6 linked regions of the Homo sapiens genome follow. The protein of the gene in region 2 interacts with the protein of the main gene of each other region in a biochemical or structural test. Each region holds a gene or a part of one and is shown on either strand. Other genes may lie near its edges. The genes, in order: TAX1BP1, LGALS8, TRIM17, MEFV, ITGB1 and TRIM22.

The links.
Region 1: the proteins of LGALS8 (region 2) and TAX1BP1 form a complex in vitro, tested with the Homo sapiens proteins (one study listed by BioGRID).
Region 3: the proteins of LGALS8 (region 2) and TRIM17 form a complex in vitro, tested with the Homo sapiens proteins (one study listed by BioGRID).
Region 4: the proteins of LGALS8 (region 2) and MEFV form a complex in vitro, tested with the Homo sapiens proteins (one study listed by BioGRID).
Region 5: the proteins of LGALS8 (region 2) and ITGB1 form a complex in vitro, tested with the Homo sapiens proteins (one study listed by BioGRID).
Region 6: the proteins of LGALS8 (region 2) and TRIM22 form a complex in vitro, tested with the Homo sapiens proteins (one study listed by BioGRID).

The regions. Positions count from the first base shown.
Region 1 is NC_000007.14:27,746,403-27,750,288, reverse strand, and holds part of TAX1BP1 (tax1-binding protein 1), read right to left. Parts: intron 1,772-3,886; 5' UTR 1,765-1,771; coding exon 1,603-1,764; intron 1-1,602.
Region 2 is NC_000001.11:236,544,169-236,548,054, reverse strand, and holds part of LGALS8 (galectin-8), read right to left. Parts: intron 3,306-3,886; coding exon 3,140-3,305; intron 2,894-3,139; coding exon of another isoform or gene 2,834-2,893; exon of another isoform or gene 94-2,833; intron 44-93; coding exon 1-43.
Region 3 is NC_000001.11:228,410,263-228,413,861, reverse strand, and holds part of TRIM17 (E3 ubiquitin-protein ligase TRIM17), read left to right. Parts: coding exon 1-65; intron 66-604; exon of another isoform or gene 605-2,685; coding exon 2,686-2,916; exon of another isoform or gene 2,917-3,177; intron 3,178-3,599. UniProt on the Homo sapiens protein: E3 ubiquitin ligase that plays important roles in the regulation of neuronal apoptosis, selective autophagy or cell proliferation.
Region 4 is NC_000016.10:3,253,597-3,258,072, forward strand, and holds the start of MEFV (pyrin), read right to left. Parts: upstream 3,038-4,476; 5' UTR 2,992-3,037; coding exon 2,715-2,991; intron 1,195-2,714; coding exon 562-1,194; intron 1-561. UniProt on the Homo sapiens protein: Involved in the regulation of innate immunity and the inflammatory response in response to IFNG/IFN-gamma.
Region 5 is NC_000010.11:32,923,648-32,927,533, forward strand, and holds part of ITGB1 (integrin beta-1 isoform 1A precursor), read right to left. Parts: intron 2,463-3,886; coding exon 2,224-2,462; intron 94-2,223; coding exon 1-93.
Region 6 is NC_000011.10:5,709,033-5,711,705, reverse strand, and holds the end of TRIM22 (E3 ubiquitin-protein ligase TRIM22), read right to left. Parts: intron 2,654-2,673; coding exon 2,058-2,653; 3' UTR 843-2,057; downstream 1-842. UniProt on the Homo sapiens protein: Interferon-induced E3 ubiquitin ligase that plays important roles in innate and adaptive immunity.

The sequences.
Region 1 (3,886 bases), on a different chromosome or scaffold from region 2:
TTAAAGCATTTCAGATTTTAGATTTTCAGATTTAGGATGTTCAACCTGTACCATTTTCCTGCTGGAAATGCCCTTCTTTTTCCTCAGTCACATTTCTGTTTTCTTCCTCTCTGCTCTGTTACTACAGAAAACATCAGTTCTCAATCAGTATCTTTAACTTGATACCAGTATCTCCCATAAAATCGAAACTACTACTGAGGCCAGGTGCGGTGGCTCACACCTGTAATCCCAGCACTTTGGGAGGCTGGGACAGGAGGATCACTTAAGCCTAGGAAGTTAAAACCAGCCTAGGCAACATAGTGAGACCCTGTCTCTACAAAAAATTTTAAAAATTAGCCAGGCGTGGTGTTGTGTCTATAATCCCAGCTATTTGGAAGGCTGCGGGGAAAGGATCACTTGAGCCCAGGAGGTCAGGTTGCAGTAAGCCACTATCCCACCACTGCACTCCAGCCTGAGTGATAGAATAAGACCCTGTCTCAAAAAATAAGAAATAAAATTTAAAAACTACTCCTAATTTCATAAAATTGTTACAATGAATGTTTCTCCATTTTGGGATTTGACAAGCCTAAAAAACTGACACAAAAAGTAAACAGTAAATAACTATTGTGTTGTATTCAGAAACATCAAGAAATGAGGAATTCAAAGAAAGGAACTAAGTCATTAAATGCCAAAATTGTTTTGTCCAAATGTTTTTCTGCCTTCCCGTCAGGCTGGACTTTTACTTCTAGACACTTTCAATGTGCCTAATTTCTAGCAGCTATTCATTTCTTTCTTCCTTGTTGTTTAACTTTATACAGATTAGACAATCAAAATTTCAAGCCCATAAAAATCTTAACTAAAATAAAACAAACTGATTCTGAGGAAGACTACAGAATAACACAGGAGAAAAGTGAATGTGTTTTACTGTTTGGACATTCGTGACATTATTTTGACTGCTCAGAGGACATTCTTATGTTTTGGTTTTCCACTACATTTTGAAGAGTTAAAATTGCCAGAAAAAGTCCTGCACAGTGAGGTGTACCACTGTAATGATCACCTTCATTTTCAAGAAAGTATTATACAAAATCACTGGTAAAATATAAGAACTAGAACTCCTGCCATCAAAGAGTTTACTATTCAGTCATGTTAAACAGAATACTTTAAAACTGTGTAATACAAACAGAATACTCTTAAAACTGTGTAATACAATCTGAGCAATATTTAAGCCATGCAGGACAGTAGAAGGGATAATAACATGGCTGTCAAGCTGTATAAAATTAATTTCAAATGACTGGAAAAAATGGTAAATAATATAAGAACCCAAAGAAAAAGATCTTTTTTTATTGCAGGTAATGAATGGAGAAAATAGGAAAAGAAGATTCTGAAAAAATTTTCACAAGTCCTTAAGTGAAGGTAAACTTTCTGATCAGGGAGAGGAAAATCTGGTGAAATGGAGTTCCCAACATCCATTTTATCTACTCCCCACTGTTAAATATTTCATGGTGATGTTTACAAAAATGAGTCTTAATGCAGAGTTAAGGCAAGTAAAAGCTACTTATCAATCTGTTTTAAAAGAAAATTTTAAGTGTTTACATGGAGAACATATTCAGAAAGCTTTCTTACCTTGAATATACCAACCCAATCTTTTGGATGTGGATGAATATATGGAGTTAAGGTGTAATGACATTCCAGGTGTGCATTAGGAAGGTAACTCTTGGCCACATTTTGAAAGATGACATGGGCAAAGTTGGAAGTCTGCAATGGGACTTCTTGAAAGGATGTCATTGTGAATCTGAAACAAGTAATTCATACAAGTTAAATTATACCAACTAAGAATAAACTTATGCCTTCAGAAAATACATAATATTTAATATAAGTTTCATGAATATTTGCATGTCATAATTAAGAAAATATATACTTTGTAAATACTGGAACTTCTTAAAAATTGATTAAATATAAAAATACAGACAAACTGGAAAAATAACTAAAACCCATTTGGCTCAGAAAGTTATATGGGCATTTAAAAGTTAAAAAACCAAAACCAAAAATTAACTCTCCTGGAAAGCCTAGCCCTCTGCTTCTATTTAAATCAAAAGCAAATGAACCAGAGGTGTTTTTGTGCACACGCTGCCAATATAAACCTGCTGGCTCCTAGTAACAAACACTAAGAAACAGAAACAAGAACAGTTAAAAGTCAGTATTTTACTGGCTATGGGTCAATTAACATTTCCTTCCTATGTAGAACCCTTGGGCTTCATCATTCTCCTCCCTAACCTAGCCCATCCCATTCATCTCTTCCCCTCTCCCTAGGTTTTGGGGTCCTATAACTAAACCTGACGCTAACATCTCTGTGCCTACATTCCTGCCCTTCTAATCCCCTGGACCAGCATTTCTCAACCCTGGTTACACATTAGAATCATTAGGGGCCTTTAAAAAAAAAAAATAGATGACAACAACTTTCTGGGATTGGGGCCTGGGAGTGTGTGCATGTGTGTCTGTGGGTGTGTATACGAATATACATAGCCCTGCCCCTACATCGCCCCAAGTAATCTCAATCCTGTATGCAACCAGAAAAGAGAACCACTATCCAACAACTTCTACCTCTCACTCATTTCCACAGATCCCAGACCCAGCCTGTCTTCTTGGGCTTCTGTTACAAGCTTGTTCAAATCTCTCAAACCATGTAAAATCTTAGCTGGTCTACTTGAAATGGCTCAGCCTATTTGTTCTTCTCCACCTATAACAAACCTATCATTTCATCATAGGTCCAATCAATGATCCTACCTCAACTTCTAGTATTCACGTACCCTTTCCACATGTTTACTGATTAAAATAAACTTATATTTAAAAATAAAAATAAAAGTGTAGTGTTAATAAAATACACACTGTTGAAAATCTCTTAGAGATTCATGAACGCTCACTGGCTTAGTAAACACCAAGCACTGGATAGCAGATGAATGGTGAAAGCAGATTATAAAAACTGCAAGATCCAAATGTTTTCCCTATTTTGTGCTCTACTTTTGAGAAAACAGAAACAAATGAGGATTTACCCAAAAAAGCAATCTGTAGAGTTTGTCACAGGCTCCGTACAATCACTAATTCTACAATACACATAAGAAACTATGACTGTCCTGACTGCACTTGCTTGAGTCATTAAAACAGGCATCTCTGTAATAATGGGGAAAACTGGGGCAAGGTTTTTGCTAACCAAATTAATCTAATTTACTTCACAAATCAATGAAGTTTCTACAGAGCAAGCACAGCAGTAAGGCTCTACTCATATTTTAGCCATTAGTAAGAAGGCTTATTGCTAAGATCTAAAACAGTGTGCTTTTACAACTGTTTCTTTTGCTGACCTGTTTGAAATACTAAGGCAAATTTTTAAAGTTTTGTAATAATAAGCACTTTAAAAAATATCAACTTTCTTCTTGTGTCCCCTCTGCTTCTGTTATGGCCAAAGTCCTGCTTTACTGAATATAATGGATATCCCAAAAAGAGACTGTCAATCATGAACCTGGAAACCACTGTAGAGTATCAGGCTAGTTGTCAGCCTCTCCCTACCTGAGGTTTGCAAGCATTCCAAGATAAAGAGTATATTCAGTAGCAATCCCCCTTTACCTCTGCACTAATAAAGGGACTTTGCTACCAGCAACCATATTTCATGGAAAGACTTAACTATGAATACTCTCTACCTGGTAACCTAAAGCCATCAGAAAAATGAACAGGTAGCATTTACAAACACTGGAGAACTCTGCCTAAAATAACTGAAGAGTTTTATTATTTTGTTTCTTTGAGTTGTCTGAGCTAATTTGGGCTCCCAGGGAGGTCATGATACTAATGAAGTCATTAATGATTATCTCAAGTCACTGGCTTCACAAAGGAAAAAAAAAAAAACACCAATTCCAGT
Region 2 (3,886 bases):
TTACTGCAACCTTGAATTCTCTAACATCACAATAAATTATCATCTGAAAGGAAAGGATACATGCCATTAGTGGTTCCCCTTAGTTTAAAATTTTGTGTTTGTTACATGCTAACGGTGTCAGAGTAAACCATTTGATTATACATAGAAAAGTTCCAGCCTGCTGCTGCTGACTTCCTTCTGACTTCCAAGACCCTAATCTAACTAAAGTGTCCCTGGTGGTGGCACTGTCTGCCTCATCCCACCCAGGGAAGTGACTCGGACATGTTTGGAGCCTCACACCATCCCCAGGGCCTGCGGCCCTCCTTTCCTCAACACAGCCCCTCTCCCTCGGCCGCATCCTGCCCCTTGCTCCTGGAAAGCCAGAGTGCTGCCCCTCCTCGCCGATGCTGGGGACTCTCCTAAAGCAGGAAAACTCACTCCTAATATGGTTGCTTTAGTTCACCGAGATGCTGTTTCCAGCTGTAGCCTGGAACCAAGGGACTTGGATCCTGACTGACTTTTCTGCCTCAAACTCTAGGACCATGAACAAACCAGACAATTAATATGAAATTTCAGCAGCTTAAGGCACTTGCTAGGGTTTTTACAGCTGCTTGGTGATCCTGATCCTGATAAGCTCAGCACATCTTGGCCTCAGTGTGTTTGTCCAAAGCCGTCAAAGCTGGGTATCCCGTAAGTTGGAAGTGGTGCACATACTACAAATTCAGATCCATCGGCAGTGTTCGCCCTTCACAGTCATCTATGCCCAAAACTCAAACAATGAAAAACCAAAAAACCTACTAGCCTTTTACATCACCTTTACACCTACACTTCATACTTCTGGTGCCACGCTGCCAGTGCCAGGCTGGGTTTCCACCCACTCTGAGAAGGCCACTGGGAGGCCCTGCACTGAGCTCTCCCTGTGCTCCTCGCCCCCATGAAGGCTTCAGAAGAAAGAGGGGCAGCTCAGCCTTGCTGCTAACCCGGCCCCACCCCGAGAGGCCAGAATGAAGCACAAAACCTGAATCTGCAAAGCAGCAAGTTGAGGGTTTCCATTCTTTTGATAGGAGCAGTGGAAAGGACTGTCAAGGAAAATCAGGAAGGGGAGGAAATTTCAGCCCAAGTCCTGCACTCTGATAACAGCTGGCCAAGATGAAGCTTCTGTGGCTACAGAGGATTGGGGAAATAGGTGTAACCTGAGATTCTATCCCCACAAGAATGGTGGGAATCCCAGTTCCAACCAGGTAGAAGGGACCCCAGATATATTTAACAAAATCTCAAGAAAACACAAAACACACAGCCTGATGCTATAGCTCAGAAGGAAAACCAAGTTGGCAGCAGAGGGAGTCAATTAGTTACCTGTACTGTATCAGAGCAAGTGCAAAGCCAGTGAATTACAAGCAAGTGGCAAAGAAATGACATGCTTCCGGGTGAGCAGACTACTGCAAATGAAAAGAAGGCACATCCTTTGCCTAGAAGAAAACAGAACAACAGAATCCCTCACAACCATCTGATGCTGCCGAACAGCTGGAACACGGATTTCATCCAGAGGAAGAGCCCACAGATGAAATTACAACACTGAATGAGATTGTTTTTAAAAAACTGTAGATACAACTAAAGTGTATTTGAAAGAGCAAGAAGATTTAAAATGAAAGTAATGGCATAATGGAAAGACCTGAGATAATCTCAATGCAAGCATATTTAAAAGGCAAGAGATGGAAGCCCCCGGAAAGGACCTATCAGTATAGAAAATCGTCAGCAGTGATCAACACAAGGATAATTACTGCTCCTGAATTAGAAAATTAAATGGAAAAGACGATTGTTCAAAAGCATATAACATTCATCTATTCATTCCTTCAGCCAGCCATCCCTTTCACTGTCTCTGCAAAAAAATGCCTGGAATGTGGTTCACCTAATCCTAATGGTATGGTTTGAATTATGAAGTTGGAGGTATTTTCATCTTAGTATTTTTCAGCATTATTTGAATGTATCATTATTATCCTTTTTTATATTAATATAGCAGATCCAAACTTGGGGCCCAGATAGGTCAAAAACAAGTTACATCATTGGTTTCCTGTCACCCACCACAAGGCTCAACTTCCTTCTAGAGCACTCACCTCTGTTTCCCTCCAGTGAACCCCAAGTCACCCTTTGCGCCTTGACTCTTGCCAAGCTAACAACCCTGTGCTGCCCTTCCCACCTCTAAGGACTTGTTCAAATCATGCCCTAAATCTAGAAAAGCCAACCTTCAGCCTTCCACATCCTTCCCAGCTTTCTGAATTCCAAACCAATATCCACAACTTCAGGGAACCTTCCATGATTAGCCCACATCTGTCTACACTCCACATACCAGGGCACTGCATTAGACTGGAACTTAGGGATAAATATGAATGTCACATTGCTATCTATTCCGCCTGATATTCATGCTTTTAGTAACGAGTTTTGATGAGTCCTCAAGAACCCACATGGTCCAGACAATGTGTCAGTTTAAAATGCTGTAGAATGATAACCTAAACCAATGACCCTAAGTGACTGTGTGAGGCAGTGGCACCTGAGCTGGTGATTGAGGCTGGCCAAACACCCGGCATCCGCATCACAAGGAGACTATTCTCTGCTCAGCATCCCAGAAACATATTTCGGGAAAGGTATGTGTTACAATATTCACCTATCTGGGGACTCAGGACTGCATGCCTTTTAGTTCCAAGGGACTGATGTATTTTTCCTTGAATACATACAAACAAGACTAACTCCTTAGGAGAAAGGACTGCCACCTGAAACCGTCTACCCTGATGGGAGATGATGGCCAGTGCAAGCAAGCAGTTTTAGGGTCTCCACGTCCTCAAGTCTGCTTATATGATTAAATGTGTGACTCCAGTCCTGAGACAAGCTTCCTGGTTAAATTCCTATCAATATGGGGCTACACAGGAATTTTAATATGATGACAAATGTCAATTCCAATGTGCATAATTTGACACTCTACTGGCTTTGCCATTTATACTGATTGCCCACGTTATAAAAAGGGGCAAATTACAATCTCCAAGTAAACAAAAAACATACACAACTTCCACATACTGAGTTAGGACTTGATTTAAATGGACCACTTATCCCACCCCTGCTCCCAGGATTCTTATTGCTGTCCCATTTTCAAAAACTGTAACCTCACCTCAAAGTACATCCCAGGACTAAATGGGAAAGAGGTAATATTTCTCTCTTCTTCTCCCCAGGACTCCTGAAGAAAAGAATTTCTTACAAATGCTTTAATATTCAGGCGTGGGTTCAAGTGTAGAGCAATATCCTTTGATTTTCCTGCTAGTAGGTCAACATTAAAGCTTTTGAGAAAGAAAGAAAAAAAAAAACCTTAATTAACCAAGTAGGACAGAGTAGTGGCAATTTCAGCAATGTTAGTGACCAGACTTGAACTATGATTCTAACTCTATGAAACACACGTATCCACATGGACATGGGAATGCAGGTGAAGTTGAAATTTTAAACCCAGTCAGCATTCCACTAATTCGTTACTTGCAAAATAAAAATACGAAAAAAAAAACCCTTTAAAATCAGCGTTGAGGCTGAGATGTGGTTGGACAGAAATGGAAGGTTTAACGCTAAACTGAATGACTACTTCAGGCTGCAGGAGCCTGGGATCCTCTCAAGCAGGTATTCTCTTTTCATCATCTACCCGTGTTCCTTCCTTCTTGAAAGTATGCCACTTTCTAGGAAATAGCTCTAATTTCAAGCTTTCAGAAGGCTGGACGTCTGTGGAAAAAGTTGTTAAAGCAGAAATTTTCTAAATCACATGACAAGAGGGGCCCTAAAAAATGTTGCCTGGGCTGGGCGTGGTGACTCACACCTGTAATCCCAGCACTGGGAGGGCGAAGTGGGCGGATCACTTGAGGTCAGGAGTTCCAGA
Region 3 (3,599 bases), 8.1 Mb from region 2:
GGGAGCAGATCACCAGGACAGGGAATCTGCAGGCCAGGGAGGAGCAGAGCTTAGCCGAGTGGCAGGTGGGTGCCCAGGGCTGTCCAGTCCCTTTCCTGCTGCTGCTCCATCTTCCTGCATTTCCACGTCTGTGTCTGCCCGTGGGGATATGCTGCCGCAGTGGCAGGAAAAGAAGAAAGTTGCCTCTACCCTTCTAGGTTCTGTGGCTGGCCTCAGAATGAAACTGACTTAAGACAGATGAACAGCAGAGAAAAAGATAAAAAGGCAATTTTAAATTACAGATGCACACATAGGGTGGAGAGAAGGGGCCTCAAAAATCAGACTCAAAGAGGCAGCCAGAGGGTAGGGGCTCAGTACCACAAAGGAGGCAGCCAGAGGGCGGGGGCTCAGTACCACAAAGGAGGCAGCCAGAAGGTGGGGGCTCAATACCACAAAGGAGGCAGCCAGAGGGCAGGGGCGTAGGTCAGCACCACAAAGGAATAGGGCTTGGGGGCCTCTGGGCTGGGGAGGCAGGTGATGTTGGTTAAGTATTTAAACAAGTGTCTCAGGTGAAGAGTTGTTTTTGGAACTCTCTTTCTGGTATAGATGCCTTGACCACTGGAAATTCCTTCATGAAAGGGCACTTTTTAATTTTTTTTTTTTTTTTTTTTGAGATGGAGTTTCACTCTTGTTGCCCAGGCTGGAATCCAATGGTGCGGTGTCAGTTCACTGCAACCTCTGCCTCCCGGGTTCAAGCAATTCTTCTGCCTCAGCCTCCCAAGCAGCTGGGACTATAGGTGCCCACCACCATGCCCGACTAACTTTTGTACTTTTAGTAGAGATGGGGTTTCACCATGTTGGTCAGGCTGGTCTTGAACTCCTGACCTCAGGTGATCTGCCTGCCTCGGCCTCCCAAAGTGCTGGGATTACAGGCATAAGTCATCGCGCCAGGCCAGGCACTTTATTTTTTTAGGCAGCTAATGGGGGAGGCAAACAGGTTTTCCTGCTTCTGCGGGTTCTCAATGGCCTTTAGTTAACCTTAATCCTAATGCCTGTCAAAACACAAAATTAAAACAGATTTAGAGATCTTTGTTGTTATTTTTTGTTTTTTTCTTGAGTCAGAGTCGCTCTGTGGCCCAGGCTGGAGCACAGTGATGCAATCATAGCTCACTGCAGCCTCAAATTCCTGGACTCAAGTGATCCTCCTGCTTCAACCTCCTGAGTAGCTGGGACTACAGGCACTTGCCACCAAGACCAGCTTTTTTTTTTTTTTTTTTTTTTTTTTTTGTAGAGACAAGGTCTTGCTATTGCCCAGGCTGGCCTTGAACTCCTGAGCTCAAACTATCTTCCCGCCTCAGCCTCCCAAAGCACTGGGATTACAGGCGTTAGCCACTGCACCCAGCTAAGAGAAAAGATTTATTTGCAAGGCCACTGAGTGAAGAGGAGGGAGAACAGCTCTTAAACCTGCCTCCCAAGTGATACAGCTTGGGAGTCTTTATGAACTACGGAGGCAGGGTGGTCCAGCAGGCCCATTCTGTGCAGGTGTCGTCGGGGTGCATGGCATTTCACAGGACACAGGTACCAGAAACGGCAGCCTTAGCATGATCTGAGGTTGGAAGTTTTGGCCCTCTCACATCAAAAGGCCACCTCGGGCACTGGGACAGGTCCACTTGAAGGGCAGATGGTCTCAACTGGTTTCAGCTGGACAGGAGCTGCCCCACATTCCTGAAGCGACCAGTCCCATGGTGACCTGTGAATATTATCTATAAAGAGCCAGTGAAGGGTGGGCGTCAGCATTCAGAGGCACAGCCTTCAGCTTCATGGAAAAAGGAAAAACAAAATAACAAAAAGCAATCAGGGCAGGCTGACCTGATCAGTGAACCCCTTGGTTTCATTAGCACCAGTGACTCCATTCTGGTTGGGTCTGGTCTTCTAGGACCCAGCGCAGGAGCCCAGTTCAAAACAGTGGCCCCTGAGGATCACCTGAGCCCAGGAGTCTGAGACAGCAGTGAACCATGATCATGCCACTGAACCCCAGCCTGGGCAACATAGCAAGACCCTGTCTCTACAAAAAAATTAAAAATTAGCTGGGCATGGTGGTGGTGACACATGTCTGTCGTCCCACTTCCTTGGAAGGCTGAGGTGGGAGGGTCACTTGAGGCCAGGAGGTCAAAGTTGCAGTGAGTTGTGGTTGTGCCATTGCACTCCAGCCTGGGCAACAGAGCAAGACCCTGTCCCTACACAAAATTTAAAAACTAGCTGGATGTGGTGGTGCATGCCTGTGGTCCCAGCTACTCAGATGACTTGAGCCCAGGAGGTCAAGGTTGCAATAAGTGCCACTGCATTCCAGCCTGGGCAACTGAGCGAGACCCTGTCTCAAACAAAACAAAACAAAAAACAATGGCCACCCATAAATTTTGTTTAACATGCCCAAGAGGCTTATCTGGGGGTGGACATTCTGAACCTCCTCAGAGCAAGGGTGCATGGGTGTTTGGATGTGTAGAAGTTGCAGTTCGGGGCTCGGAGGGTTACACTCAGTGTATCACAGGATGGCAGAGGTGGGGGCCTCTGTCACAGTTCCTGGTCCCCAACTAAAGCTCCAGTTGCTGGTGATCTTGTGGGTCACCAGGGCCCTGGGGAGAGGTGCCAGCATCCCTGGAGCTGAGCCACCTGCTGGCAACATGCTGGGCTTCTCCACTCCTGCAGGGCAAGGTGAAGGAGCGGAGAGAACGCATTGTGCTGGAGTTTGAGAAGATGAACCTCTACCTGGTGGAAGAAGAGCAGAGGCTCCTCCAGGCTCTGGAGACGGAAGAAGAGGAGACTGCCAGCAGGCTCCGGGAGAGCGTGGCCTGCCTGGACCGGCAGGGTCACTCTCTGGAGCTGCTGCTGCTGCAGCTGGAGGAGCGGAGCACACAGGGGCCCCTCCAGATGCTGCAGGTGAGCCAGTAGGCTTGGCAGGCAGGGTGGGATGTGAGCTCTGACAGGCATGGGCAGGGGGCGCTGGGCTTGGGGAAGAGGCAGCCAACGGGAAAGGGCTGTTAGCTCCCAGTCTGCTAGTCCTGGAGGCTGGGTGGCTGAGGCCAAGGTGCGGGCAGGCCTGGTTCCTCCTGAGCCTCTCTCCTAGGCCTGAAGATGCCGTCTCCTCCCCGCGTCCTCATGGCATCATCTCTCTATGCACGTCTCTGTCCTAATCATCTCCTTGTATAAAGACACCAGTCAGACTGGATTAGGGCCCACCCCAGTGACCTCAACTCCCTCCTTAAAGATGCTATCTCCAAACACAGTCACATTCTGAGGTCCTGAGGGTTCAGGCTTCAACCTGTGAATTAGTGGGGACACAAGTCAGCCCCTTACAGGTTCCAACCTGAGACAGTGTCCCCATTTCCTTCCAAGTCCAGAGAGGTGGCTTGGGACACCTGGCAGCCAGGTGTGGCTTTGGGACAGGGACTCCATGTCTCGGTGTGGAGGAGGTGCACTGTCCCAGGAGTGAGTTGTGTGGCAACGGCAGTGGGGAGGTGAAGCAGCCAGCCTGTCTGCCGGGACCAGCCTGTGTGCCATGGCCCTGGAGAGGGGGCTTGATTACGGCTGATAAGACGCCATCTCTACAAAAACTTAAAAAT
Region 4 (4,476 bases), on a different chromosome or scaffold from region 2:
TGGAACTCCCTGGCTCAAGCAATCCTCCTGCCTCAGCTTCCTGAGTGGCTAGAATTACAGGCGTGTGCCACCATACCCAGCTAATTTTTTTTTTAGTTTTGTAGAAGTGGAGTCTGGCTACGTTGCTCAGGCTGGTGTGCAGTGGCATGATCTCAGCTCACTGTAGCCTGGAACTCCGTCTGCTCAAGTGAACCCGAGCAGCTGGGACTACAGGCGCGTGCCACTATTGTATTTTGTAGAGATGGGGTCTCACTGTGTTGCCTAGGCTAGTATGGAACTCCTGGGGTCAAGAGATCCTCCCGTGCAGGCCTCTCAAAGCTCTGGGATTACAGGCGAGAGCTACCACGCCCTGCCCAACCTTTGGGTTTTTATTTTTTTAATTTCGTTTATAGAGATGGCGGGGGTCTCACTACATTCACCAGGCTGGTCTCAAAGTCTTGGCCTCCAGCAATCCTCCCGCCCTGGCCTCCCAAAGCGCTGGGATTACAGGCATGAGCTATCGTGCCCGGCCAGCCATTCTTTCTCTGCAGCCGATATAAAGTAGGAAAGAACACAATTTACCGGTGACCGAATGTTCTGGATTTCCAGGGCCTTCCTTCAGGTCCGCAGATGCCCCTCCATCCGGAGTGGGCCTTGCCCGGGGTTCTGTTGCCGAGTCCAGATTCGCAGCTGTCTTTTCCTCTAGAGTCAGGAGAATTTCTGGATTTGCGGGCGCCTTCTCCCCTGTAGAAATGGTGACCTCAAGGCTTCTAGGTCGCATCTTTCCCGAGGGCAGGTACACTTCGAAGGGCCTGCACTCCTTCTGCCCCGGGGCGCCCCCCGCCAGCCCCTGCAGCCTCCCCGCGGAGCTGGCGTTTCTGCGCAGCCGGACCTCGGCCTGGCCCCCCTCTAGCGCCCTGCAGGGGCCGGGGCTTCTCCCGCCCGGCAGGGCCGGGCTCCGGGTCCGAGGCTTGCCCTGCGCGTCCAGGCCCTCCGAGGCCTTCTCTCTGCGTTTGCTCAGGGGCTTCCTCGACAGCCCCCTCCCGGCCTCGGGCTGGCTGCACCGCAGGCTGGCAGCTCCGCCCCCGTACGGCCGAGGGCCGTTCCCCTCGTTCCCCTCGGGGTGGTCTGGAGTCTTCAGGCTCCTGGGCTTGTTCTCCCCCAGGGAGCTGGACGCTGCGGAATCATCTGTGCCGTTTTCTTGTGTGGAATATTCTGGAAGGACAACCAGATGCAAAATGATGAAGCTGTCCCACGTTTAGGGCCCAAGATTCAGGGCAGAGGAGAGAGAATCCCCTTGGATATTAAAGTTTAGAAATTGAGGAAAACAACGGGCCGGGCGCGGTGGCTCATGCCTGTATTCCCGGCACTCTGGGAGGCCGAGGCGGGAGGATCACCTGAGATCAGGAGTTCAAGACCAACAGGGTGAAACCCCGTCTCTACTAAAAATACAAAAATAAGCTGAGCGTGGTGGCGCATGCCTGTAATCCCAGCTTCTCCAGAGGCCAAGGTGGGAGGATCATTTGAGGTCAGGAGTTCGAGACCAGCCTGGCCAACATGGCAAAACCCCGTTCCTACTAAAAATAAGAAACTCAGCCAGACGCGGTGGTGCGCACCTGTAGTCCCAGCTACTCGGGAGGCTGAGGCATGAGAATCGCTTGAGCCCGGGATGTGGAGGTTGCAGTGAGCTGAGATCGGGCCACTGCACTCCAGCCTGAGTGACAGAGCAAGACTCCATCTCAAAAACAAAAGTTCAGGACTTCCTAGACTAGACAATGGCAGTCAATTACCATTCAGTAAGAACATGCTTGATGTTGCTATGTATTTCTCTCTCTCTTATTTTATTTTTTGAGACAGGATCTTGCTCTGTTGCCCTGATGTGATCTCAGCTCACTGCAACCTCTGCCTCCCAGGCTCAAGCAATCCTCTCACCTCAGCCTGTTTTCTGTTTTTTCAATAGCTGAAAATACAGGTGTGTGCTACCACGCCTGGCTCATTTTTTTGTATTTTTGGTAGAGACAGGGTTTCACCATGTTGCCCAAGCTGGTCTCAAACTCCTGAGCTCTAGCAATCCACCCACCTTAGCCTCCCAAAGTGCTGAGATTATTTATAAGTGTGAGCCACCATGCCTAGCCTATATTTCTCAAATAGTACTTTTCAAACGTTTTAAGCAGGACAACTGTTTCAAATAAGATCTTACACAGGTCAGCAAAACCCAGATTATACGCTTTAAAAATAAAAATAAGCCGGGCACGGTGGCCTATGTCTGAAATCCCAGCACTTTGGGAGGCTGAGGCGGGAGGATCACTTGAGGTCAGGAGTTCGAGACCAGCCTGGCCAACATGGTGAACAGCACTGAGAAGATTCTATACCAACCCCGTTCATATGATTGCATAGCAATCCCTTTTTGCTAACCTAGAGATGTTTGTCTGACATGAGTATTAATCATAAATGTAGTGAAGAAGTCTCAAAGAACAGGTGTTCCAGCTCCTGCCTTTCGTGACCCTGACCTGCTTCTTAAAAAACCCATTAGGAGCCTGAAGGAAGTTTACTAACCCAGTTCCAAAGGCCAGAGTGAAGAAAGGGACGTTCCTGAACTAAAGTCATCTGGATTTTGGTAGACCTGAGACTCCCAATCCCCAGGTCAGAGTGAGCTGCTCTGAGCTCCTGGTCCCCTTTCCCACAAAGCAGCCAGCACTCAGCACTGGATGAGGAGGAGGCCTGGGCCCGCTTACCCTGAATGGCTGCCCTGTGGAGCTCCTCGGCCAGCAGGCGCTGGTTGATGGCCCGCAGGACCTGCAGGGTGAGCTGCACGGCGTACTCTTCCCCATAGTAGGTGACCAGCAGAGTGGCCATCTTCACCGGCCTGGCTCTCTGGATCTGGCTCCGGGGGATCCTGGAGTGCTCCTTCTGCACACTGGTGTTCTGCAGCTTGAACTTGAACTTCTCGAAGTCATAGGGCACCAGCTCCTCCAGGGTGGACAGCAGATGGTCACTAGGGGTCTTAGCCATGGTGCTGAGCAGGAGAGGCTCGAGCCAGCTGTCTGGCTTCTGGTAGGAAAAGAAGCCTCTGTCCTTGGTGAGCAAGAAAAGGCAGGTTGTGAAATAGCGGAAAAGGCACAGGAAATGCTCTGTGTCTTGGTGGGAACTGAGACTAAGGGTAAGGGTGTGTCCATGCCGGCTGTGTTCTCTTCTTACAGGTTCAGAGGATTTTCCAGCTGGGAGGGCTCCATGCCTTGGCAGACATGTGCCCCCACACCCCTCCCAAACCCTGGACCTCGCCTCCACACTAGACCACAGACAGATGGGCAAGTCTGCAAGGGAAGGTCTGGGATTGGATTCCAGACACCCCCTCCAATCTTCCTTCCTGCCAGGATCTGGGGCTGGCAGAGCGGGTGAGTGGGAACAGAGAGGACTATGCTGAGGGCCCGCCCTGCTGGTCAACTGTTCTCCTCCAGACTCGGGGTTTCAGGGACCTTCCAGAGCCAATGGCACAGGACGGGGGAAGGGGTGGGCACTGAATACAGTCCTGTGAGCTTTGCCTTTCCTGGCCCAAGAAGGCAAGTGAGGCCAGAAGGGCACTGCCAGGAGATAACTCTTGCCATGCCATCACCCCTGTTGATCCGGTTCCAGTTGACTGGTTCTTCCAGCCACATGAAGGACTTGAAAAGCAATGCCTGGACCACCAGCCTGACTCATCTGTTCCCAGAGCTGACTCAGTCCTCGCTCCCTGGAGCCAGAATGCTCTTCCGTGCACATTCATTGAACATTCTAGACAGTGTGCCAAGATGCTGGAGCTACACGGGTGAAAAGGCACGGGTGTCCTTCAGCTCATATGTGGTGCAGGGCCCCAGAGGTGGCTTTGAAGCTAACAGAAGTTACATGTTGGGGGCAGGGCACAGTGGCTAACGCCTGTAATCCCAGCACTTTGGGAGGCCGAGGTGGGTGGATCACCTCAGGTTGGGAGTACAAGACCAGCCTGGCCAACACAGTAAAACCCCATCTCTACTAAAAATACAAAAATTAGCCAGGCATGGTGGCACGCACCTGTACTCCCAGCTACTCAGGAGGCTGAGGCAGGAGAATCACTTGAACATGGGAGGCAGATGTTGCAGTGAGCCGAGGTTGCGCCATTGTACTCCAGCTTGGGCGACAGAGCGGGACTTTGTCTCAAAAAAAATAAATAAATGAAAAATTACATGTAGGGTGAACTGACTCCTCACTTACCTACTTCTGACCGTTGCATACCCTAATTTTTTTATTTTTAGATAGGGTCTTGCTCAGTCACTCAGGCTGGAGTGCAGTAGTGGGATCTTGGCTCACTGCAACTTCTGCCTCCTGGGCTTGAGCAACCCTCCAACCTCAGCCTCCCAAGTAGCTGAGACTACAGGTGCATTCCACCACATCTGGCCAATTTTTGTATTTTTTATAGAGACAGGGTCTCACTATGTTGCGCAGGCTGGTCTTGAACTCCTGATCTCAAGCGATCCACTCGCT
Region 5 (3,886 bases), on a different chromosome or scaffold from region 2:
AATGCCACCAAGTTTCCCATCTCCAGCAAAGTGAAACCCGGCATCTGTGGAAAACACCAGCAGCCGTGTAACATTCCTCCAGCCAATCAGTGACTTGAAAAGAAAAGGATTTCAATTTTAAAACACTATTCACAGTAATTCAACAAAAATCCTTTAATTTTCATATAGGCCACCATTGTATTTTTAACCTAATTCTGTATTTTCTGTGTCTTCTCTTTATACAATGGTAATTATCTTGCTGAGAAACACACAAAGCCCACTGAATGAAGCTCTTCCATCCCATGTACAACGATATCTTGCCTGACCATCCGTATCTCTCAATCTCTCAGTTCTTTTTAAAAACTGTTTTTTTGTTTTGTTTGGTTTGGTTTAGTTCTGCTTATCATCATATCTCCAGCAGCTAGCAAGCCAGCACACTGCTTGGCAAGCAGTAAGCCCTTGATGAGCATTTGCTGAATAAATGAAAGTGTCTGAGCCTATCCTTACTTTACCCCACTGCTGCTGTCTTGTCCCCATCCACCCATCTCTGCTCTATGTTCTATGCCATGCACCTTCTTTATCAGCCCACCATATGAGGCTTCCTTTTTTTATAACAGAAATAAGTATCTTGTTTAAGGATAATTTCACCCATTCTAACTCCTCAATCAGTACTGTTTATGCACTCATTTACTTTATCCTTGCCCTTTCCAATAAAGAATCTAAAGTAACTGTAAAATCTTCTTGTCACTATGGTAATTTATAATTATAAAATCATAGGACTATAGGAATTTACCTGCTTTCGTTAATTTATTTAATACGTCTGTTTAGATCTTCATAAGACAGTAAAATACTTTAAGGTGGGAATCACATTTATTAATACTGGCAATCTTTCAAAAGTGGAATGTCTGATTCTTTTGCATCTAGAGGAGTGGATCAGCATGACCAACACAGAAAAACAGCCACAATCAAGGGTGTTATGGCTTGTTTAATACCACAGGTTAAGGCCTAGTTAGAGGCAGCCCAGAGAATGCCCTCCCCACAACGAGCTGCTAACAGGCTCACACATCAATGGCTAGTAAGAAAAGAGGTGTAAGGCTAGGTACTACCTGGAATGCTACTTGCTTCGGCTATAACAGCAGGGACTAACCTTAAATTGCAAACACTCTAGTGAAAAGTCGAAAGTAATAACAATATAGGAATTAGTATTTGCTGAATGCTCATTGGTACTTTATAGAGATTGATGCATTTTAACTTCACAAGAGCCCTATGAGGTAGATACTATCATGATCCCTTCTTAAAGAGAAGAAAACAGCCCTGGAGAGGCTGAGTAAATTGCCCAGCATCAGTGGTGATAGAAAAATTCTTAATTACTATCCATATTCCTTCACTTATTATTTTGGGCATCAATTAGCACCTTAGCAAAAATTGACTGAAAAATAACCACTAAGAGGCCTCTAAAATCAAAGAAGGTCATCTAGAGAATGGGGGCACTGGAGGGAACAAAAATGAGACAAGAGTAGGTACGCAGGACAAACTTGACATGACAATGTCTTCTAGTTTCAGCCTCAGCCACATCATTAAAGTGTCATCTCAAAATACATAGCTGCTACATGGATCATAAAATACAAATTATTGAACCAATAGGGATGGGCTTGCTACTGAAAATCTTACAATTAAAATTACAAATATTGTATCACTTCTCAAAATACATCTATTCATATAGGTTAAAAACTAGAGCTTAAAAAGTTCTCTCTTTTTGAATTACTAAGACACAGGAGAAAGATGTGTCTTTCAAAGACAGTGAGAAGAAAACTGACCAAAGGAAAATGATACAAGACACTCTCCCTTTGAGCAATTTCAAGGTTCCTGGTGATGCCTCAGATAATAACATCAATTCTATCTCTAGTACAAAGCCAGAAAGTTAGGACACATGGGCTTTTCTAAAATCCAGACCACCAGCTACAGTACAGAGAGGTTGCCCCGCTGTTTCAAATGGTTAGCATTCTGTCTTTTAAAAGCCCGCATGAATAAACTAACTGTGTGGTTTGCATAAAGATTAAATATGCTTTTATAAAGGCACTTTATGTATACAGGCAATTTAAGGGTTTACTTAAAATTACTTCTCTAAGATAATCAAATCTATGAAAATTAAGGTCAATTTTTCTATTATCATAGTAAAATCACACTTAAAATTCACACACATAATAGAAACAATATCCCCTGATAGGAAATGAATGCGCTTACTCCACAAACTGCAACTTGCATGATGGCATCGAAACCACCTTCTGGAGAATCCAAATTTCCAGATATGCGCTGTTTTCCAACAAGTTCATTAAATACTTCTCCTTTATTAGTAAGACTGAGCACATTTTTGTAGCTAAATGGGCTGGTGCAGTTCTGTTCACTTGTGCAAGGGTTCCTGAGCTTAGCTGGTGTTGTGCTAATGTAAGGCATCACAGTCTTTTCCACAAATGAGCCAAATCCTGCCAAGAAAAAAATGGTACATAAATGAATGAATGGATGGATAGATGGAAAGACAGAGATTTGCATTGTTTAAAAAATTCATCTATGTTACCAAATGTAGGTTACTATGGACTGAATGTCTGTGTTACCCCAAAATTCCTACATTGAAAACCTAATTCCCAACATGATGGTATTAGGAAGTGGTTCCTTTGGAAGGTGATTAGATCATGAGGGCAGAGCCCTCATGAATGGGATTAGTAACTGATACAGTTTGGGTATCTGTCCCCGCCCAAGTCTCATGTTAAAATGTGATCCCCAATGTTGAAGGTACGGCCTGGTGGAAGGTATTTCGATCATGGGGGCAGATCAATCCCTCATGGCTTGGTGCTATTCTGACCACAGTGAGTGAGTTCTCATGAGATCTGTTATTTAAAATTGTGTGGCATCTCTCCCCAACTCTTGCTCCTGCTCCCACCATGTGAGAAGCCTGCTCCCCACTTTGCCTTCTGCCACGATTGGAAGCTTCCTGAGGCCTCCCCAGAGGCCTTGCTGATGCTAGCGCCATGCTTCCTGTAGAGCTTGCAGGACCGTAAACCAATTAAACCTCTTTTCTTCATAAATTACCCAGTGTCAGATATGTCTTTATAGCAACGTAAGAATAGACTCCTACAGTGACCTCATCAAAGAAGCCCCAGAGAGCTGCTGTCTCCCTGCTGCTATGTGAGTACATCGCAAGAAGGTATCATCTATGAACCCAGAAGAGGGACCTCACCAGATGCTCAATCTGCCTGGATCTTGGACTTCTCACCTCCAGAGCTGTGAGAAATAAATTTCTGTTGTTCATAAGCCACCCAGTTTATAGTATTTTCTTAAAGCAGCACAAATGGACTAAGACCTAAGACAATCTTTTTATTTTGCCTCCCTACTTTAAAAATAACTCACATTCATTTTCTTGGCACACCAGCTCTCAATAATGACATGCTGAACAAATGAATAAACAAATATTCTAGAATTCTGGCCATTTTAAAAAACACTAATTTGATAGGAGCTCCCTAATGCCATGGTCCTTGAATTATGCTTACAGAATAAAAGAACATTTTAAGCAAGTGCTATTTTTAAATGTTTCCACTAAAATAGGGCTAATTTTTGAAAGGCAGCTCTTAGGCCTCATAACTGTCAAATCTTTCTAATATTCTGTTGCTAAACCTCTAGAGCAACAGGAGTGGAGAGAAGCAGGCAAAAAAGAGGTTAAGCTGGGGATGCATGAAATGGGAAAAATAAGGTTTGGAAAGCAGATCATCATCATATGAAAAATCCAGGTCTAAGATGAGATCAGGCTGTACGGGCAGGTGCAGACATACTAATTAGCAATTAGATAAAATCTGGGTATTCAACACATGTTTATAAAATAAGTCATAAGGGCCAGGCATGGTGGCTCACGCCT
Region 6 (2,673 bases), on a different chromosome or scaffold from region 2:
ATGGCATAACCTGCCCTAATTTATAATGTATACATGATGGTTAATTTTACATGCTAATTTGACTGGTCATAGATTGCCCGGATTAAACATTATTTCTGGTGGTATTTGTAAGGGTATTTCTGGTTGTATTTGTAAGGGTGTTTCTGGTTGTATTTGTAAGGGTGTTTCTGAAAAAGATTAGCACCTGAATAGCTGGACTCAGTAATGGCTACCTCTCCAAAGCTTGCCCTCCCCCAAGTTGCTGGACATCATCTAATCCATAAAGGATCTGAGTAGGAGAAAGGGTTGAGGAAGAAGATATTTGCTTCTTTTCCTGCCGCAGTACTTGAGCTGAGACATGTCACCTCATCTTTTTCTGCCTTTGTACTGGCATTTATACCATCAGCTCCCTGGTTCTTAGGGCTTCAGAGACACACTGACTTATATCACCAGCTTTTGGGTCTCTGGTTTCCAAATGGCAGATAATGGGAAGTCTTAGCCTCCATAATCAAGTAAGCCAATTCCTCATAATAAATACATATCTCTTATTGTTCTGTTTCTCTGGAGAACCCCGACTAATACAATATATTTCTTCAAGAATGTTTTGTGTCTTTGCTATCCTAGGTAGTTCTACTACTCATCCTGTGTTTGAAAAAAGACTTAAAAAAAAAAAAAAAGAAAAGTACCTAGGATGGTAAATGCAATGGTACACACAAGTGTTTCATTACGAGAAACAGATCTGAACAGCATAAGGCTGTCTCTTATCAAGGACAGCTGAGCCTAGACATGACCTTCTTTACTGGACATATGGAAACTCATATTATCTGCAGCAAGATTTTGGAAACTGAAGAATGAGACTTCAGTAGAGCCAGCTATTGTTTTATTGAAGCAAAAAGAAAACAGAACAAAAACAAAAAATTGTTTCCCAAGACATTGAAATGGCTGACATCTTTTCAGTAATAATCAGAACAATATTTATTTTTATATTTAAAATTCATAGAAAAGTGCCTTACATTTAATAAAAGTTTGTTTCTCAAAGTGATCAGAGGAATTAGATATAGTCTTGAACACCAATATTAATTTGAGGAAAATACACCAAAATACATTAAGTAAATTATTTAAGATCATAGAGCTTGTAAGTGAAAAGATAAAATTTGACCTCAGAAACTCTGAGCATTAAAAATCCACTATTAGCAAATAAATTACTATGGACTTCTTGCTTTAATTTTGTGATGAATATGGGGTGTCACTGGTAAACCAACACATTCTGAAGGATACATTACTTAGTGATAGATTCTTATGTACTTTGCTAGATAACGTGGATATGAGTTGACAAGTTTCTCTTTCTTCAATCTTTTAAGGGGCAGAGGAAATGAGGAAGAAAAGAAAAGGAATTACAGCAATACTGTTCTTTCTATAGGAAGGATTAGATATGTTTCCTTTGCAAATATAAAAAAAATAATAATGTTTACTACTAGTGAAACCAAGGTATTAGGAAAATAATGTACAAGCATCTCTTGCAAGAAAGGGTAAGATTGTTATGAGTGAAATCGTGCCTTCCTCAAATTTATATGTTGGAGTTTTTATTCCCAATACCTCCAAATATTATCTTATTTGGAAATAAGGTCTTTGTAGAGAATATAATGTTAAAATGATTTCATTAAGGCATTAGCGGTGGGCCCTGAGCCAGTATGACTGGTGTCTTAATAAAAAGGGAAAACTTGGGCACAGAGATGTACATAAAGACAATGTGAAGAGTCATAGGGACAAGATGCCTTCTACAAGCCAAGGAGAGAGGCATGGAACAGAGCCCTTCCTTGCAGACCTCAGAAAGAACCAACTCTGCTGGAATCTAGATTTGGGATTTCCAGCCCACAGTACGGCAATACAATTACAGTTTAAATCAGCAATCTATGATGCTTTGCTATGGAAGCCCTAGCAAATGAATACAAAGACATTCTAAGTAAAAGAAGGGGAAAGAAAGGAAGAGATGGTCTCAGTAGAGATGAACTCAGGTGCAGAATCTGAGTCTCAGCACAAGGGCTACTATGCAGAAGTGGGTAAAGGAATGAGAACACTCAGGAGCTCGGTGGGCACACAGTCATGGGGACTAGGCAGTTCCAAGGATTGAAATACGGATAAGCAGGTCGAGAAAAGCGACATCCAGAGAACTTGTAGATGAGTGCTCCGTGGTTTGTGACATTGAAAAATGAGACAATGCCTGCCTCATAGTCTAGGAAAACCCCAATACGACAGGGAGGCACAGCCATAAAGAGAGTCAAAACCTTGGGATCAGAAGAGGAGGAGTCCTCAAAAGCATTATATTCACATGTATTCTGTAATCCTATAACCCAGTAGCCATATTGAGGTCTATATCTGGAGTAAACTTTTGAATAATTTACACTTGGATCAAAAGCAAACCCAGAGCTCTTCCTTTTATTCAGACTACTTATTTTACTGTGTACGCCCAGGATCCAGGCAATCTTTCCAGACACATCTACTTCCCAGTAATATTTCCCCGAAGAGAAATATTGGCAGCCGAAGACACCAAAAGCAGAAAAATCACATGGATTTGAATTCTTAAATGTGCAGGTGCGTACAGTTTTCACTTGTCTCTGATCCACAGAAATAGCAACATTCGAAGTGGCACTGCCTGGATTCAGCATCACGTCCACTGTAGAAAAAATTACCAAG